2 linked regions of the Homo sapiens genome follow. The protein of the gene in region 1 interacts with the protein of each later gene in a pairwise test. Each region holds a gene or a part of one and is shown in the gene's direction. Other genes may lie near its edges. The genes, in order: MAP2K2 and KSR1.

Region 1 (10,315 bases):
CTGAGGCAGGAGGATCGCTTGAGCCCATGGGTTTGAGACCAGCCTGGGTAAGATGGTGAGACTCCCCTTGCCCATTTCTACAAAAAATAAAAAATTAGCTGGGCATGGTGGTGTGCACCTGTCATCCCGGCTACTCAGGAGGCTGAGGCAGGAGGATCACCTGATCCCGGGAGGTAGAGGCTGCAGTGAGCAGTGATTACACCACTGCACTCCAGCCTGGGTAACAGAGTGAGATCGTCTCCAAAAAAAAGAAGGAGAATTTATATATTTATTTATTTACTTACTTACTTATTGAGACAGACCGTCTTGCTCAATCACCCAGGCTGGAGTGCAGTGGCGCGATCTCGGCTCACTGCAAGCTCCGCCTCCTGGGTTCACGGCATTCTCCTGCCTCAGCCTCCCAAGTAGCTGGGACTACAGGCGCCTGCCCCCACGCCCTGCTAATTTTTTTTGTATTTTTAGTAGAGACGGGGTTTCACCATGTTAGTCAGGATGGTCTTGATCTCCTGACCTCGTGATCCACCCGCCTCGGCTTCCCAAAGTGCTGGGATTAGAGGCGTGAGCCACCGCGCCCGGCCAGAAGGATGATTCATTTACTGTTCTATGTCAAGGGCAATGCCCACAGTACATACAATGGGATATCATCTAGCAAGGAAACCGAACTAATTATCGTTATGTGAAATAATATAAATGAATCTCAAAAATATTGTCTCAGGACCTGGTACAGTGACTGACGCCTGTAATCCCAGCACTTTGGGAGGCCAAGTCACTGGGGTCATTTGAGCCTAGGAGTTTGAGACCAGCATGGGCAACATGATGAGACCCCCCCATCTCCACAAAAAATATAAAATTAGTTGGGCATGGCGGTGGGAGCCTGTAGTCCCAGCTACTCCGGAGGCTGAGGTGGGAGGATGGCTTGAGCCCAGAAAGTGGAGGCTGTAGTGAGCTGAGATCACACCACTACACTCCAGCCTGTGCAATAAAGGAAAATCCTGTCTAAAACAAAACCAAAACCAAAAACAAAACATTGTCCTAAAGCAGAAAGAGCTGACACCAGGCCGGGTGCGGTGGCTCACGCCTGTAATCCCAGCCTATAATTCCAGCACTCTGGGAGGCCGAGGCAGGTGGATCACGAGATCAGGAGTTCAAGACCAGCCTGGCCAATATGGTGAAACCCCATCTCTACTAAAAATACAAAAATTAGCTGGGTGTGGTAGCACACGCCTATAATCCCAGCTACTCCGGAGGCTGAGGCACGGGAATCGCTTGAACCTCGGAGGTGGAAGTTGCAGTGAGCCGAGATCGTGCCACTGCACTCCAGCCTGGGTGACAGAGTGAGACTCTGTCTCAAAAAAAAAAAAAAAAAAAAAGAACTGACACCATGAGTGCAATTCCATTTACATGAAACTCTTGAACAGGCAAAAACTAATCTATGGGGATAGAACGCAGAATCTGGGGGGGTTTTGGGAGTAGTAGTGGACTGCAGCTGGCTTACAGCCACTCGTAAGCATCTTTGATACCATTGTCAACTTTATTTTTTTTGAGACTGACTTTCACTCTCGTTGCCCAGGCTGGAGTACAGTGGCACCATCTCGGCTCACCACAACCTCCACCTCCTGGGTTCAAGCGATTCTCCTGCCTCAGCCTCCCTCGTAGCTGGGATTACAGGCATGTGCCACCACACCTGGCTAGTTTTGTATTTTTATTTTTATTTATTTATTTTTTTAGACAGAGTCTTGCTCTCTTGCCCAGGCTGGAGTGCAGTGGCGAAATCTCAGCTCACTGCAAGCTCCACCTCCCGGGTTCACACCATTCTCCTGCCTCAGCCTCCTGAGTAGCTGGAACTACAGGTGCCCGCCACCACGCCTGGCTAATTTTTTTGTATTTTTAGTAGAGACAGGGTTTCACTGTGTTAGCCAGGATGGTCTCTGGTCTCGATCTCCTGACCTCGTGATCTGCCTGCCTCAGCCTCCCAAAGTGCTGGGATTACAGGCGTGAGCCACCGCGCCCGGCCTTGTATTTTTAGTAGAGACAGGGTTTGTCCATGTTGGTCAGGCTGGTATCGAACTCCCGACCTCAGGTGATCCACCCGCCTCGGCCTCCCAAAGTGCAGGGATTATAGGCATGAGCCACCACATCTGGTCTTCTTCTTTTTTTTTTTTTTTTTGAGACAGAGTCTCCCTCAGGCTGGAGTGCGGTGGCACGATCTTGGCTCACTGCAACCTCCACCTCTCAGGTTCAAGTAATTCTCGTGCCTCAGCCTCCCAAGTAGCTGAGACTACAGGCACCTGCCACCATGCCCAGCTAATTTTTTTTTTTTTTCCGAGATGGAGCCTTACTCTGTTGCCCAGGCTGGAGTGCAGGGGCACAATCTTGGCTCACTGCAACCTCCACCTCCGGGGTTCAAGCAGTTCTCCTGCCTCAGCCTCCCGAGTAGCTGGGATTACAGGTGCCCACCACCATGCCCGGCTAATTTTTGTGTGTTTTTAGTAGAGACGGGGTTTCACCATGTTGGTCAGGCTGGTCTTGAACTCTTGACCTCAGGTGATCTGCCCACCTCGGCTTGCCAAAGTGCTGTGATTACACCCGTGACCAGCCTAATTTTTGTATATTTAGTAGAGATGGGGTTTCACCATGTTGGCCAGGCTGGACTCGAACTCCTGACCTCAAGTGATCACCTGCTTTGGCCTCCCAAAGTGCTGGGATTGCAGGTGTGAGCCACCACACCCGGCCTCTCCTTATTTTAATGGCTCATTGTTAAACATTTACCAGCTCACTACTGCTGGGTGCAGAGGAAGAGAATGAACTAAAAAGGCAGTGAACAGACTTTCTGGAGTAAGGGGAAGTGTTACATGGATGTATAGAGTTGTAATAATCCAAGAAATTGAACTTCAGAAACTTGTGCATTAATAGGTGAGTGCAGTGGCTCACGGCTCTAGTCCCAGCACTGCTGAGGACGAGGCAGGAGGATCGCTTGAGCCTAGGAGTGTGAGACCAGCCTGAGTGACATGGAGAAACCCTGTCTGGACAAAAAATACAAAAATTAGCCGAGTGTGGTGGCGTATGTTTGTAGCCAGGGCTACTAGGGAGGCTGAGGTGGGAGAATCGCTTGAGCCAGGGAGGTGGAGGCTGCAGAGAGTTATGATCGTGCCACTGCACTCCAGCCTGAGGCCTGGGTGACAGAGTCAGAACTTGTCTTAAAAAGAAAAAAAAAGCCTAAAATAGGATAAAATGGGAGAAAGATTGCTAGGCAAAACAGAAGGAACATGGAAATAGCCCTGTCTCTGAAAGGGCCTGTCCTTATTTGAGGCCACATATGCATCCATCTGAATTTTGGACAAGCGGGTGGGAGCGATGAGAAGTAAAACTGAAAGGCCCAGATTGTAAAAACCCAGGAGCAGGCTTCCCCAGGAGCAGTGTTTTGTTTGTTGTTTTGTTTTGTTTTGTTTTTTTCGAGATGGAGTCTCGGTCGGTCGCCCAGGCTGGAGTGCAATGGCGTGATCTCGGCTCACTGCAACCTCCACCTCCCGGGTTTAAGCGATTCTCCTGCCTCAGCCTCCCGAGTAGCTGGGACTACAGGCACGCATCACCACACCCAGTTAATTTTTGTATTTTTAGTAGAGACGGGGTTTCACCATGTTGGCCAGGATAGTCTCAATCTCTTGACCTCATGATCCACCTGCCTTGGCTTCCCAAAGTGCTGGGATTACAGGCGTGAGCCACCGCGCCCGGCCAGTTGGTTGGTTTTGTTTTTTGAGCGTGAGTCTGGCTCTGTCGCCCAGGCTGGAATGCGATGGCACAATCTCGGCTCACTGCAACCTCCGCCTCCGGGGTTCAGTTATCCCACCTCAGCCTCCCTAGTAGCTGGAATTACAGCCACCCGCCACCACACCTGTGTAATTTTTGTATTTTTAGTAGAGACGAGGTTTCACCATGTTGGCCAGGTTGGTCTCGAACTCCTGACCTCAAGTGATCAGCCCACCTCAGCTTCCCAGGGTCCTGGGATTACAGGTGTGAGCCACGGCACCTGGCAAAAAATTAAATTTTTTTTTGTTCTGTTTTATTGGAGACGGAGTCTTACTTTGTCGCCCAGGCTGGAGGGCAGTGGTGCAATCTTGGCTCACTGCAACGTCTGCCCCCCGGGTTCAAGCGATTCTCCTGCCTCAGCCGCCTGAGTAGCTGAGACTATAGGCACACACCGCCAGGCCTGGCTAATTTTTGTATTTTATTTATTTATTTGTTTGTTTGTTTGTTTGTTTGATTTTTTTGAGACGAAGTCTCGCTCTTGTCTCCCAAGCTGGAGTGCAATGGCGTGATCTTGGCTCACTGCAACCTCTGCCTCCCGGGTTCAAGCAATTCTTCTGCCTCAACCTCGCGAGTAGCTGGGATTACAGGCACGCGCCACCATGCCCGGCTAATTTTTGTATTTTTTTGTTTTAGTAGAGACGGGGTTTCACCATGTTGGCCAGACTCGTCTTCAACTCCTGACCTCAGGTGATCCACCCGCCTCGACCTCCCAAAGTGCTGGGATTACAGGCGTGAGCCACCGCGCCCAGCCTATGACCTTTCTTATAAAGTGGTACGGCTATTGTATTAAATAGTAAGGTGGTGCTTCAAAAAGTTCAACATAGAATTACCATATAATCCAGTAATTCCTCTTCAGAACATATACCCAAAAGAACTCAAGGCAAGGACTCAAACAGATATTTGTACATCTGTGTTCATAGCGGCACGATTCACCGAAGTGTCTAGTGGCAGATAAATGGATAAGCAAAATATAGTCCATGCACACAATAGAATATTATTCAGCCTTAAAAAGGAGGAAAATCCTGACTGGGTGCGGTGGCTCACGCCTGTAATCCCAGCACTTTGGGAGATCGAGGCGGGTGGATCACGAGGTCAGGAGATGGAGACCATCCTGGCTAACACGGTGAAACCCCGTCTCTACTAAAAATACAAAAAAATTAGCCGGGCATGGTGGTGGGCACCTGTAGTCCCAGCTACTCGGGAGGCTGAGGCAGGAGAATGGCGTGAACCCGGGAGGCAGAGTTTGCAGTGGGCCGAGATCGCACCACTGCACTCCAGCCTGGGTGACAGAGCGAGACTCCGTCTCAAAAAAAAAAAAAGGGAAATTTTTCTTTTTTTTTTTTTTTCTGCTCTTTTTTGGAGCAGGGCTACCCGATTGGAAGTATGCCCGGAGTAGTCAAGTGGGTAAATTCTAACACAGGTTACAACGTGGATCTAACACAGCTACAACAGGCACCTTGAGGACGTGGCCCTCAGTGAAATATGCCAGCCACAAAGGGACAAAACCTGTGTGATCCTACTCATATGAAGTCCCTAGAATCATCAGATTCACAGGAAGTACGACGTTGGGTTCCAGGGGCTGGGGAGGGGGATAGGGAGTGAGGTTTCATAGGGGACAGTGTTTCAGTTTCGGAAGATGAGAAAATTCTGGAGATGGTGGTGGTGGTGGTTGCTTAATGCCGCTGAGCTGTGCATTTAGAAATGGTTAAAATGACAAGTTTTATGTTATGTGTATTTTATAATAAAAATGTTTCAACATGCGCATAGTAATATATGCAATTTTATTTGTCAATTAAAATAAATTTTAAAAATGTTTTAGAGTGGCCTTGTTCTGATGAAGGAGGGGGAGTAACTGACACTCTAAGGCGGTGGGGGCTAGGGGCGTGTGTCCACGCTTGCCAAAAAGATTAAATGGACTCTGGGTGGGTCTCGTCCACTGTTCTGGGGTCTTACGGGTTCTCTCAGCCCCAGCCTGGGGCACCACAGGCTCTCAGGAGTCTGGCTACCCTGCCCACCTGTGCACGACCATCACCCCAGCCTTCATCCCTCCGTCTCCTCCCCTGCTCCCGCGCCTCATGCCCCAAGCGCTTGGGCACACGCGCCGTGGTAAGGCAAGCGAGGGCGCCCGGTCCCGGCACCGCCTCGCGTCGGTCTCCGCCCCTTTCCCCTCCGAAAGGCGGCCTTGTGCTGCTGCGCAGGCGCGGCGGCTGGGGGTGGGGTCCATCGCGGCTCCCGATCCCGTTATCGCGAGAAGCCGGTCCGCGATCTTGTGGCCGCCCCTCCCCTCCCCCTGCCTCTCGGACTCGGGCTGCGGCGTCAGCCTTCTTCGGGCCTCGGCAGCGGTAGCGGCTCGCTCGCCTCAGCCCCAGCGCCCCTCGGCTACCCTCGGCCCAGGCCCGCAGCGCCGCCCGCCCTCGGCCGCCCCGACGCCGGCCTGGGCCGCGGCCGCAGCCCCGGGCTCGCGTAGGCGCCGACCGCTCCCGGCCCGCCCCCTATGGGCCCCGGCTAGAGGCGCCGCCGCCGCCGGCCCGCGGAGCCCCGATGCTGGCCCGGAGGAAGCCGGTGCTGCCGGCGCTCACCATCAACCCTACCATCGCCGAGGGCCCATCCCCTACCAGCGAGGGCGCCTCCGAGTGAGTGGGCAGGGGTCAGCCGGAGGCTTGGGGTGCACGGGGCAGGGAGCCCTCGGGGAAGGACGGGGCGAGGGGACGGGGGTTCGCGAGGAGTGCACGAGGCAGGGGGGTCACGGGGGAGGACGGGGTGAGTGGTGCACGGGGCAGGGGGTTCTCGAGGGGAGGACAGGGCAGGGGACCCTCGGGGGAGGACGGGGCAGGGGGCCCTCGGGGGAGGACGGGGCAGGGGGCCCTCGGAGGACGGGGCGAAGGGTGCACGGGGCAGGGGGGTCTTTGAGCAGTGAGATTGGGCGAGGGGAGGTCCTTGTGGTGGAAAAGATGGGGTGTGGGGTTCCTGAAGAGTGGAATTGGGATAACGGGAGTCTCTGAGTAGTGAAGTTGGGGTGAAGGATGTCTCTAAGAGGAGAGGATGGGGACAGGGGTCCCTGAGCAGCGAGGTTGAGTGAGGGGAGGTCCCTGCAGTGCAGAAGATGGGGTGTGGGGCTTCTGAAAAGTGAAGCTGGGGTGAGGGGAGTCCCTCAGTAGGAAAATCGGAATGAGGGGTGTCCCCAAGGAGAGAACAGGATGAGGCTCCCCAAGCAGTGAGATCGGGGTGAGGGGTATCTCTAAGAGGAGAGAACACAGTGTGGGGTCCTTGAGTAGTGAAATGAGGGTGAAGAGTTCCTAAGAGGAAAGGACGGAGTAAAGGTTGCCGTAGTCATGAGATGAGGGTGAGGGGAGACCCTGAGTAGGGAAATCGGGGTGCAGGGCATTCCTGAGAGGAGAGGATGGGGTGTGGGGAGGTCAGGCAGCCCCTGAGGAGGAAATCTGGGCAAGGGGGCTCCAGAGGGGAGAGGATGGGGTGAGGGGTCCCTGAGTAATGAGACTGAGATGGGGTAGGGTCCCTGGTAGGAAAAGACGGGGTAAGGGTCCCTCAATAATGAGATAGGGCCAAGGGAGGTCCCTGTGGGAAAAGACAGGGCATGGAGTCACTGAGTAGCAGAATGGTGGTAGGTCTCTGAGTAGTGAAATGGGGTGAACGGTCCCTGAATAGTGAAATCGGGGAGATGGTGGGGTCCCTGAGTAATGAGATTGGAGTGAGGGGAGATCCCTTTGGGGAAAAGATGGGGTTTGGAATCCCTAAGTCGTGAGATCAGGCCAAGGAGATGTCCTTGCAGAGAGAAGATGGGGTGCAGGGCCCCTGAATTGTGAGATGGGGTTGAGGGGGTCCCTGGGAGGAGAGGATGTGTCGGTGGGGGCCTGTGGGGGAAGGATAGGCAAGGGGTGTTCTGCATATTGAAATGATAGTGAAGCGAGTCCCTTGGGGGAGAGATGGGGTGAGGGGGTCCCTATGGGGGAAAGATGGGGTGGGAGGGTTCCTATGGGGGAGAGATGGGGTGAGGGGGTCCCTATGGGGGAGAGATGGGGTGGGAGGGTCCCTATGGGGGAGAGATGGGGTGAGGGGGTCCCTATGGGGGAGAGATGGGGTGAGGGGGTCCCTGTGGGGGAGAGATGGGGTGGGAGGGTCCCTATGGGGGAGAGATGGGGTGGGAGGGTCCCTATGGGGGAGAGATGGGGTGGGAGGGTCCCTATGGGGGAGAGATGGGGTGGGAGGGTTCCTATGGGGGAGAGATGGGGTGGGAGGGTGCCTGAGCCACAGGTTGAGAGTGCAGCACCTGGGTGGGGAGGACAGGCTGAGAGGTCTTGGGGGGGCGGGGAGCGGTCCTTTTGGGGAATGAGTCCCTGAGTAATGAGGTTGGCATGGGATGAAGAGGGCACCTAGGGTGCCAAGGTGGGGCAGGGGGGTCCCTTAGGGGAGAGGATGGGGTGAGGAGGTCCATAGACAACCAGGGAAAAGGGAAGAGAGGGGAGGACAGGGGGCTCCCAGAAGGGTCAGGATGTGGGAGAGGGGTGTCCTAGGGGGTCACGATGGGGTGGGAGACCCTAGAAAGGTCAGGATCGGGGGACTTTGGGGGGGTCAGGGTGGGAGTTCTGGGGTATCTGAGGACAAGGGGGTGTCTTAGGGGTGTCAGGACATGGGGGGGCTTTAGCGGGGTCAGGATGGGAGTTCTAGCGGGTTCCAGATGGAGGGGTTTCTGCTGGGGGAGGTCTAGTGGGATCAGGACAGGGGTTCCAGGGGGTTCATGTTGTGGGGGGGGTCAGGTTGGGTCCTCGGGGGTCATGTTGGGGGATTCTGGGGGGGTCAGGTTAGGGGGTCCTCGGGGGGTCATGTTGTGGGGGTTCTGGGAGGGCAGAGCAGGGGGTCCTAGGGGTCTCATGTTGGGGTTCTGAGGGGGTCAGGATGGGGTCCCAGGGAGGTCAAGATGTCAAGATGGGCATCTCTGAGAGGGCATCTCCTGCTTGTGGCGGTGCCCAGTGTGTGGAGTCCCTGAAGCTGGAAGTGTGAGGAGACAGGGAAGCCAGAGTGTGAGGAACGAGGAGGCGTGGGGATCAGGGGACCCTGCTGGCCCCTGAAAGCAGAGGTGCAGATTCTGAAGTGAGTGGACCGGAAAACCCTTGTGAGGGGCTGACCCAGTGCAGAAGCTTTGAGGAGGTGGAGGGCGACCAGAGGCCTGGGTGAAGGGATCTGAGAAAGGGGTATGCTGGGGTCCGGGTGGCGTGCTGGCAGAATCGCACTGCTCCAGGACGAGGGAGGGGACTGGGTGTTGGGGGCACACACTGGTGGGGTCATGCCAGGGTGATCTCTGCACTCCCGTTCTGCAGGCCGAGGCAGGGCAGGGCGATCCCCGGGGCCCTTGGCTGGGGTCCGGGTGCCGTGCCTGCGGTGTGACCCCTCAAGAACCAGGTGTCAGGGACTGTGGCATGTCTGGTGGCCTCTCCCGCTTGGGGGTCGGCCTTCTGTGACCCAGATGAAGACTCTTGATGCCAATGTGTGCAAGTCAACACGGGCACAGCCAGACACGGGGACCCGTTCCTCATTCTCTGCACAGAACTCGCCCTTCACATTTCTCTTCCGTGTGGGGTTTGATTCCCATCTCTTGAAGGATTCCCCCAGGAGAGGAAGCTGGCTGTAGGGACGCCAAGGTTTTGTTTTGTTTTGTTTAATAACCACAGTTGGGTTGCCAGTAAATTTAAGATGGATTAGTCAGCTGACTCCAGAATGCATTTTCAATGTTTTGAGCAGTACTTGAGACCTTCCAAGTCTGCCATCAGAAGTGTTCATTCATGGCTGGGTGTGGTGGCTCACGCCTGTAATCCCAGCCCTTTGGGAGGCCAAGGTGGGTGGATTACTTGAGGCCCAGAGTTCAAGACCAACCTGGCCAACATGGCAAAACCCCGTCTCTATTAAAAATGCCAAAAAAATTAGCTGAGCGCGGTGATGCACACCTGTAATCCCAGCTACTCAGGAGGCTGAGGCAGGAGAATCGCTTGGACCCAGGAGGCAGAGGTTGCAGTGAGCTGAGATCGTGCCAGTGCACTCCAGCCTGGGCGACAGAGCAAGACTGTCTCAAAAAAAATAAATATTCATTTATTCATTGATGTTATTCATTCATTCATTCATGTTCCCCTCCTTACCTTCTGTCCCACTCCCAGGGTCTCGCCATTTCTGCTTCTTCTGGGTCCTTGTTCAGCAGCTCCTCAGTGAGCACCTACTAGGGCCCTGTTTCCCCTCATGGGGGACACTAAGATGAGCAGGGGTTGTCCTGACCTCAGGCAGGTGTTGTTACCTCGGGCAGGTTCCCCCACCCCTGTGAGTCTGTTCCCTCCTGCCTGGGCCTCCGGGGACGATGGTGAGAATGGAATGAGATGGTGTTTGTCCAGCCCAGGAAGCGGTGCCCAGGCCCCTGCCTTCCAGCGAGCTCTTTGCAGCACCAGCTCCAGCGCCATCGCCTCGGTTCTGGCCTGTGTGCCCCGTGGCTTACGCCACTTCCAGC
Region 2 (9,430 bases), on another chromosome or scaffold:
TTGGAAGCTCACGAAGCGGAGGTGAGGGTGACACACACGTGTCCACAGATGGCCCCCCCTCTTTTTTCCCTTCCCCATCTCAGAATGCGCAGGGGGCTTGAGGGTGAGTGGGTTCTGGACTTTGGCAAGGGCTGTCCCAGGCACCCATTGCAGAGGTGCATGTCAGGGAAGAACGATGAGGAATGCAATGGAGCAAGCTTGTCCAAGCTCTGTCTTCCCCACACTCCCCAGGTGATTGTAGCCAGGGTCAAGAACCACTGCCTTGACCCTTGAACAAAAGTGTCAGCCAAGGCTGGATCCCTCCATTGCATTATGGCTTGGAGAATGTTAACAGACTGATTTACTCCTGCCCAGGGGAGAGTCAGAAACTCTGTGTTTAAACAAGAGTTCCAGAAGGATGGATGCAGTGAAATTCTTCTATGCCAGGGATGCTCTTGCTCTTTCCTGGACAATTAGATGTTGCTCACAGGTAGGTATTGGAGTATTAGCATGATGAAGGGCCTCAGGTCACCGGGGCCAGCCGCCACATATTGTGGATGAGGACATTGAGGTCCACTGATGCTAAGTGAGCTGCACAGCAGGCCAGTGCAGAGCTGCAACTACAACCTGGGTCCCCTGGCAGGATGCCTCTCTCCCCTGTTACCTGGCTAGGGCTCCAGGAGAAGGAAGAGACGTCGCAGAGCCCAGATCTGCTGCCCATCCCTGTTCTTCCTGCTCTCCTTTCAGGCTGAGGAGCCAGAGGCTGGCAAGTCAGAGGCAGAAGACGATGAGGACGAGGTGGACGACTTGCCGAGCTCTCGCCGGCCCTGGCGGGGCCCCATCTCTCGCAAGGCCAGCCAGACCAGCGTGTACCTGCAGGAGTGGGACATCCCCTTCGAGCAGGTAGAGCTGGGCGAGCCCATCGGGCAGGGCCGCTGGGGCCGGGTGCACCGCGGCCGCTGGCATGGCGAGGTGGCCATTCGCCTGCTGGAGATGGACGGCCACAACCAGGACCACCTGAAGCTCTTCAAGAAAGAGGTGATGAACTACCGGCAGACGCGGCATGAGAACGTGGTGCTCTTCATGGGGGCCTGCATGAACCCGCCCCACCTGGCCATTATCACCAGGTAACCAAGCCCTAGGACCTCATGCTGGATGGCCAGCTCAGCCTCCCCCTTCCCAGGGAGCCCTGTTTGTGTGGATGCCCTAGAGGGTGTGGAAGTTCTAATAGAGGCATAAAGAAGAAAACCAAAAATGGGGTATAACTTCCTAATCACATAACCGCATTGACACTAAAAAATAAATAAATATGGGCTGGTGCAGTGGCCCATGTCTGTAATCCCAACACTTTGGGAGGCCAAGGTGGAAGGATTGCTTGAGCCCAGGAGCTTGAGACCAGCCTGGGCAACATACTGAGACGCTGTCTCTACAAAAAAATTAGCTGGGCCTGGTGGCAGGTGCCTGTGCCTGTGGTCTCAGCTACTTGGGAGGCTGAGGCAGGAGGATCGCTTGAGCCCAGGAGGTCAAGGCTGCAGCGAGCCAAGATCATGCCACTGCACTCCAGCCTGGGTGACAGAGTGAGACCTTTCTAAGTTTACAGAAGATCAAATGTCCATAAAAGGTACAGAGTGAAAGCCAGTCTTCTCCCACTGCAACTGAGCGCTTCTCCCCAAAGTCAGAGACACTATAAACAGTTAACATTCCTTCTGTTAAAAGGAAGACATTTGCATATACTCACGTTTTTAAACTGTTTATTCCTTTTTGTAAAAATACAAAGGAGAGATCATGCTGGCTCACACCTTGCCTCCTGCACCCGATTGTGGGTCTGAGGTCTACTCTCTTCTAACACCTGCACAGTATCCCCATCACGTAGGCTGAACCCAGTGGTGTGCTGGTAAATGTGTAACAACCAGTTTTGGGGCAGTATGGAGGGAAGCCCTAATTTATAACATCCATCACTTCCTGTGGTGTAAATACTCTCACCATGGTCAATTTCAGACTACCAATGTTATCTCCTGGAGTGGAGTAGAGTTGGGAAGAGTTGTATAATCAAGAGCTGATCACTGGTGGTCCCGTAATTTATTTACAGAACAAGACTCCATCTCAAAAAAAAAAAAAAAGTAGTTAATGAAAAACAAAACAGGTAATTAATTAATGATAAACTAGACAGGGTCTCGCTCTGTCACCCAGGCTGGAGTGCAGTGGCGTGTTCTTGGCTCACTGCAACCTCTGCCTCCCAGGCTCAAGCAATTTTCGTGCCTCAGCCTCCCAAGTAGCTGGGATTACAGCCGTGTGCCACCACGCCTCGCTAATTTTTATATTTTCAGTAAAGATGAGGTTTCACCGTGTTGGCCAGGCTGGTCTCAAACTCTTGACCTGAGGTGATCCGCCCACCTCAGCCTCCCAAAGTGCTGAGATTACAGGCGTGAGCCACTGTGGCCTGCCTGAAACAGGAAAATATTCATTAACAAAAAAATCTTACTTTGTTTAGAATACGCTGAAGAAAAGTGGGACACAGATAAGGAAATCACCAACCAATATTCTCTACCCCTTGCCTGGTTTTCAAAGGCTCTGAGACTCCAAGAATATTTTCCTAAAAACATAGTCCCTTCCTAAGATAGCTCCCTTGGACCCACATTCTCTCTGGGTCCCTCCTCACCCGGGGTTTTAGGAGTTGATGCAGGTGGCGACCCCAGAACTGAAGCTCCTTTTCCAGTAGTCACCTTGACGCCCCTAACATCTACCCCACCCCCTTTCCCTCCTTGCACACTCCTTTATTGTAATAAAAACCCTGTGATCAAGAAAAAATGAAAACTATAATGAGATTCTTGACAGTGAGCCCCAGAGCCTTGATGTTGCCTGTTGATGCCCTTAAATTAGCCAAGTTCTTCCCCATCAGAGTGGTCCTGCCTTGAACCCACCAAGCATGGCTACTCTGAGTTCCTGAGAGCTTTGATGCACTGTTTCCTGTTGTAGGATGGGCAGGCACTGGCTCTCAGGGAATGGGGGTTTGTGTGCGTGTACGTGTGTGGTGTCATGTGTTTCTGCACGTTCAGGCCAGGCCCCAGCAGGACTGGGCTGGGTTAAAGAAGATTTGGCTCACAGTCGAGGGGCTGGAGAGAGTCCTTGCAGGCAGACGGGCACAGTTCTCCCCATGGGCTCCACCAGGGTTGGGGTCAGGCCGCACCAGCCCCAGACTTGTGCTTGACCCCCACCACCCTCGACAGCTTCTGCAAGGGGCGGACGTTGCACTCGTTTGTGAGGGACCCCAAGACGTCTCTGGACATCAACAAGACGAGGCAAATCGCTCAGGAGATCATCAAGGTGAGGGGGTGCCCAGCTGCTGGGGGTGGGTTTCTGGCCGGTTCCAGGGCTCTCGGCTGTTCCTCTCGCCCTGTTACTCCCTGTTAGGGTGGTTTGGGCAGCTTTGCCTCTCCTTCTAGCTCAGGCTCCTCAAGGGTGGGACCCCATCTCTTCCTCCCTGTCTCTGTCTCATTCATTCAGAGCTGGGAGCTGATTGTCCACATGATTAGGCTTGATGGAATTGACTTGGTTGGGAAGGAACTTGGCAGGCTTTAGAGGCCAGTTTCAATCCTGGTCACACCCTTTGTGTGACCTTGGGTAGGTTTAGCCTCTCTAAGCCTCAGTTTTCTCCCCTGTAAAATGGGGATCTTCATATATCCTCCCTCTCTGGATTGGTGTGAGGTTAAAAACGCGATAATCCATGCTGTGGGGTACACAGGAGCCCTGGGTCTGGTGTTTGAAGACAGCTTGACCTTGGATGAGATCATGCCTATGTCAGGTCACCCACGCTCCATGCACCTGACTCATCAGTGTTAGTTCAAATAGAGCATTGGTTAGAAATCACCCACTGCCACCTCTTCGCTTGATAGGTGAGGAAACCAGTCTTCAGAGAAGTTGAGCACTGTGTCCAAGGCCACAGAGTGAGTGAGAATCTGAGCTGAGATGGAGTTCAAACCCCAGATTTCTTAGTCCAGGGCTCCTTCTACTACAGCTCAGACATTAGGAGCACTCAAAGTTGGGGACCCCGCTGTGGGAATGCCTCTCTGTTCCCCCACCTTGAGCCCTTGTCCTGCCTGAGAGCACAGACCAGCTGTGCATATCCTGACAGAAAACCCCAGCTCATTTAGGCCCTTTATGACTGTACACTGATAAATCTCACTGTCCCTGACCCCCCGGCTCCCTGCCCATCACCCTGTTCACACCTCCTACCTTAGCCAAGGTTAACATGGTTGTTTAGAAGCATGGTAACATTAAAAGAGCATAGACCGGTCTGGGATCAGATCTCAGCTCTGCTTCTTCACTGCTGTGTGGCTTGGAGCAAGTGACTTTCCCTCTCTGAACCTCGATTTCTTCTTCTGTAAAATGGGGACAATATACTGCATGGAATTGTGAAGATCAAATATGGGGATTTAGGTAAATCATCCAGCCCAGGGTGGCACCTCCGTCATCGTTGCACATCTTCACTCCTCCTGATGTGTCCTCCAGGGCATGGGATATCTTCATGCCAAGGGCATCGTACACAAAGATCTCAAATCTAAGAACGTCTTCTATGACAACGGCAAGGTGGTCATCACAGACTTCGGGCTGTTTGGGATCTCAGGCGTGGTCCGAGAGGGACGGTGAGTTGGTCTTGAGTGTCTGGGTGGGTTGTGGGTGCTGGATGGGGAAGAGCAGGGCTGAGGTCTGGGCACTTTCACTGTTTGTTGCTGAGCTGCAGCCCTCCCTGCAGGGAAGCCCAGGTCGCTTTGGTCCTGCCCTCGTAGTTCTGGTTCAGAATCAGATTTGGGTCGCGTTTGGATTCTCAGGCCGACTTCCACGGAAACCAGGTCCCCACACTCACATTTGCCCTGGCTGTTCACCCGCTTGGCCAAGGAACCAGGTCATTTCCCCACGATGAGGAAGAGTGTCAAATTTTATTTCCCCAAATCTTGAAGGGATTGGCATAGGGAGAAAGGCCCCTCCCCTCACATCTAGGGGAACCCAAAAGGGAGCATGGCAGCAAGGCTGCAAGGCCAGCCCCAGCCAAGTTTGAGATCCACAGGCAGATCAGGGTTCCTGGTTAGAGAGGCGCCTCATTCTCCAGCAGAGGGAGCTGGGCACCTTCACCAGCAGCTCCCTGTCAATATTTATCCATTCTTGCCCTGCTTTTCTAGAAACAACCGGTCATGACTCCTTTGTAGAATTCCTCAAAAGCACCGGTGCCTTTCCCAAGTGCAGGGTCAGTGTTCTGGGTCTGGGTGTGTTTTCTAAGCTGTGTGTGGGTGTTCTGCCGGCCCTGGGGCAGACCTGTGCCAGGCAGGCCTCTTTGCTGCCTGCTGAAAGGCCTGTGTCCTTGTCCCGGCTTCCTGGTCTCCAGGCGTGAGAACCAGCTAAAGCTGTCCCACGACTGGCTGTGCTATCTGGCCCCTGAGATTGTACGCGAGATGACCCCCGGGAAGGACGAGGATCAGCTGCCATTCTCCAAAGCTGCTGATGTCTATGCATTTGGGTGAGTAGGCCCCTGGTGCCCTGAGGCCAAGTGTGGCCAAAACAGAGGGCCCTGGTGGCCATTGGGGGCAGAGGGAGGCATGCTTTTAGGTGTTGAAAACCCAGGCTCTGGAGTAAAAAATCAACCTTGAGTCCTGGCTCTGCCGCTTGTTGAGTGCATGGTCTTGAGTCCTGGCTCTGCCGCTTGTTGAGTGCATGACTATATCCTTGACCTGGAATAGCTCCTCCCAACAAGGTCATTTCATGAGGACTAAATCAGGTAATTGTGTGCAGTGCTTAACACTGGCTGTCAGCCCCACCCAGCTGATCTGGGAGGATGCTCACCAGAGCTGACCAAGAACTGCTCCTCCCAGTCTGGGGGAGCTGGATATCCTGCCGGCTCTGCTACCCCACAAAGACCTGGGTGCTGACCAGTAGCAATATAATGTGAGCCCGATATAGAAGTTAAAGTTTTCTAATAGCCACATTAAAAAAGAAATGGATGAAATTAGTTTCCCCTGTTTATGTTTTATATATTATAAAACGATATATTTTATTTAACTCAATATATCCAAAATATTATTTCAACATGTAATCAATATACAAATTAATAAGATATTTTATATTCTTTTTTCCTACTAAGTCTTTAAAATCTGGTGTGTTTTCTGCCTAGAGCACCCCTCCATTCAACTGTGCACATTTCAGTCACTCAGTAGCCCCCCTGTGGCAAGAGGCTCCCACATTGGACAGTGTGGGTCTGATGGAGAAAGTCCCATCCCAAGTGAAGAAAGCCAAGGGGACGTAGAGAGGCCAAGGAAGGCTCACCACCCCGGTCACCTGTGCTGTATCTGGGTATCCTTCCCAGTGGGGTGGCCTTGGCGCCATCCTTCCTCCCTGACCTTTAACTGTATCCTTTCCTGAGCACCCATGTGTGCCAGGTGCTGGGCTTGGCAATTTAGTACTCCTCAAACAACCCTGTGACAAGAGACATTAGCCCCACTGAGGTGAAGCAGTTTTACTGGGATCTTGCAGCTAGAAGGTGGCAGAGCTGGATTTGTGCTGAGGTCAGAATGACCACCAAGGCTCCGGTCAAACCTGCGCTGTCTCAGACTTCCCACCCAACGAGAGCACAGGGCCCAGGTCCTCTAGGGCTGGGAGGAGCCTCCAGGAGCCCACTGTAGCATCCCCTGAAGCCAAGTGGGTGAGGAAGGCTGGAGAAGGGTCCTGATCCTCTGGCTGGGCTATGGCTCAAGGGCCCCTGGGCTTGAGCTGGGCACAGCGGCCCAGGAGCTCACAGACATGGCTGGGTCTCTGCAGGACTGTTTGGTATGAGCTGCAAGCAAGAGACTGGCCCTTGAAGAACCAGGCTGCAGAGGCATCCATCTGGCAGATTGGAAGCGGGGAAGGAATGAAGCGTGTCCTGACTTCTGTCAGCTTGGGGAAGGAAGTCAGTGTAAGTAGTACCTGCCCTGGGTGGAGCAGTAGGGCTGGAGGTGGGGTGGGGCATGTGGCATGGCTGCCCTTCACTCACCCACCTGAGAAATGGGGTCGGTGAGGAGCTCTGCCACCTGCACGTGTCTAGCTAGAGATGAAAATGATATGCATTGCCCGGGAATGGGGAAGGAACAGGGAGGCATAAATAAGAAAATATCTATCCTCACCCCACTGCTCACCCTTTTCATTCCTTTCAGTCTTTTTTTTTTCTTAAAGATAATGGTTTTCATTGATTTATGAGATGAAAAGAAAGTAAAGCCCCATGTTATTTACATGAAAGAAGATAATTTTTTTTAAAAAAATCACTGCTGAAAATACAAATAGTTGTGCTATGCTGTGGTATTAAATCTTTCCTCATAATGTTTTTCTTGACTATTAAGAACAAATCAAAGTTTCCACAGCAAACTTGTTTTCAAAAAACCAAGTCTTAATTATAGTGGCCGACTTCTCATTTCTACATGGTTTCTCCTTAATGGATTCTCTGTGTTTGTAAGTTTTGTCAGGCTAAATAAGAGAGAGAGGCTCTCAAAAGATGTTTATTTGGAAATAGAGCGTTGCACTGGGAATATGCATGCCATGGTGAATGGCTTGCTTATTCAGGGAGGTAAAGGAAAAAATGAAGAGGATTACACAATTATTTTGACATATTTAGTAGTTTTCCCTGGCTACAGAGATGAGTAACAAGAGTGATGTCAGTCCAAGGTTAGACAGGTTGTTTGAGGCAGATGTCCTTGTAGGAGTATTTTTGTATAAGGTTGCCATGGCCTTCGTACAAGGTTGCAGTTTTTGCAGTCTTTAGTGGTAGTTTTTGTTATCAGACATACAAGCCCAAGAAGCCTCTCTTCATGGCTTTCCCAGGCCCGATTTGTCAGAGTTTTCTTCACATTTGTGACTCTCTTTTGATTCTGACAGCTTTCAGTTTCCTTTATCACAGCACAGTGATATATAAAGAAACTCCAGGGCTTGGTGTTTTCAGTGCCATCAGTGATAGCCATGTGTCCATGAATCAGATAGGATTGGGACAGAACAGCCTTGATGTTAATAAGCAACTCCAGTCAGTATTTGGGCAGCATAACAATTGAAGTCTTCAGAGGGACCACCCAGCACTTGTCCAGGCTAAGATACAAACAGGCTGTGAGCTTCTTGTTAAGGTCATGAACATTGCTGGCAGGATCACTGTCTGTCTGCAGACTCTGTCTGCAAATTTGCAGTGATGAATTCAACCTCATCGTCCTCCAAGTTCTTAATAGATGGTAATATTTTTCTCAATTGACTGGTGGCAAGCAGCTAGGGCGTCTTCAGAAGGCTCACTCAAGATGACATTATATCTGATCTACTTTATTCCACAGTAGTATATGTCATCTTGTTGAAGTGCAAAATATTTGTACGGGGATGCCCCTCCAAAGATGACACCAAAATGCTATTTAACAACACGAACAGCAGGCTCCTCTTTGGCCAGTTGATACCATTTCATCTGGGGTGCTGGGCAAGGGCCATGGGTGATGAGCACTTCTCTGACACTCTGAGGCCCGTCCTTCTTGGCCTCCTTCTGGGCCAGGGCCAGTTAAACACCACCTTCACCTTGGTGCATCCTCGGGTGCCTTAGGAGCGTGTGGTGGTGATGCAGAATTTTTTGCTCCTTAGCTCAGCTAAAATCCAGGTTCTTGTCTCATGACCAGGAAAAATTAGGCATGCGGACACATTGAAAGGTGAGGAGAGTGGAATTCATTAAAAGAAACCTCTCAGCAAAAAAGAGGGGGTCCTCCCAACAGGCTCCCATCTCACAGATTGAATATCAGGCCACCACACACGAGCTGAAGAGGCCAGGCTCCTCCCCTGCATAAGGCGCGAATTCCTGGTGGCTCCACCCTATTCCCCCAGTGCATGTGGGTCTCCAGTCCATTGTGGGTGTACCCAGGCAAGACCCTGTGCAGGTTCCCTCATCTGCACAAAAACATCTGTTGTAAACACTTGTGGGGCAGGATGGAGGTTCTCCAGGGACCCTTCTTTATCTGCCTCCTGCAACTGTCAGTGGGCTCAAGATACAGGTTTTGGGCTCCTGGCTGTGGCTGCAGCCTCCTTGGCTGAGCTCTGGGGCAGCTCAGATGGCAGCTGAAGTAACCACTGCTTTCCAGTCTTTTTAAATTTTTTTTGAAGCAGTTTTGCTCTGTCGCCCAGGCTGAAGTGCAGTGGCACGATCTTGGCTCACTGCAACCTCTGCTTCCCAGGTTCAAGTGATCTCCCGCCTCAGCCTCCAAGTAGCTGGGATTACAAGCATGCACCAAAATATCCAGCTAATTTTTGTATTTTTAGTAGAGATGGGGTTTCACCATGTTGGCCAAGCTGGTCTCAAACTCCTGGCCTCAAGGGATCCATCTGCCTCAGCCTCCCAAAGTGCTGGGATTACAGGCATGAGCCCCCATGCCTGGCATAGTCTTTTAAAAAAATATTTAAGACATACATATCA

The links.
Region 2: the proteins of MAP2K2 (region 1) and KSR1 interact in binary tests that used the Homo sapiens proteins (3 or more experiments, as listed by UniProt).

Annotation. Positions count from the first base shown.
Region 1 is NC_000019.10:4,119,909-4,130,223, reverse strand, and holds the start of MAP2K2 (dual specificity mitogen-activated protein kinase kinase 2), read left to right. Parts: upstream 1-6,101; 5' UTR 6,102-6,348; coding exon 6,349-6,440; intron 6,441-10,315. UniProt on the Homo sapiens protein: Catalyzes the concomitant phosphorylation of a threonine and a tyrosine residue in a Thr-Glu-Tyr sequence located in MAP kinases. Activates the ERK1 and ERK2 MAP kinases.
Region 2 is NC_000017.11:27,604,708-27,614,137, forward strand, and holds part of KSR1 (kinase suppressor of Ras 1), read left to right. Parts: coding exon 1-21; intron 22-726; coding exon 727-1,106; intron 1,107-3,206; coding exon 3,207-3,303; intron 3,304-4,488; coding exon 4,489-4,622; intron 4,623-5,359; coding exon 5,360-5,491; intron 5,492-6,142; exon of another isoform or gene 6,143-6,670; intron 6,671-6,786; coding exon 6,787-6,922; intron 6,923-9,430.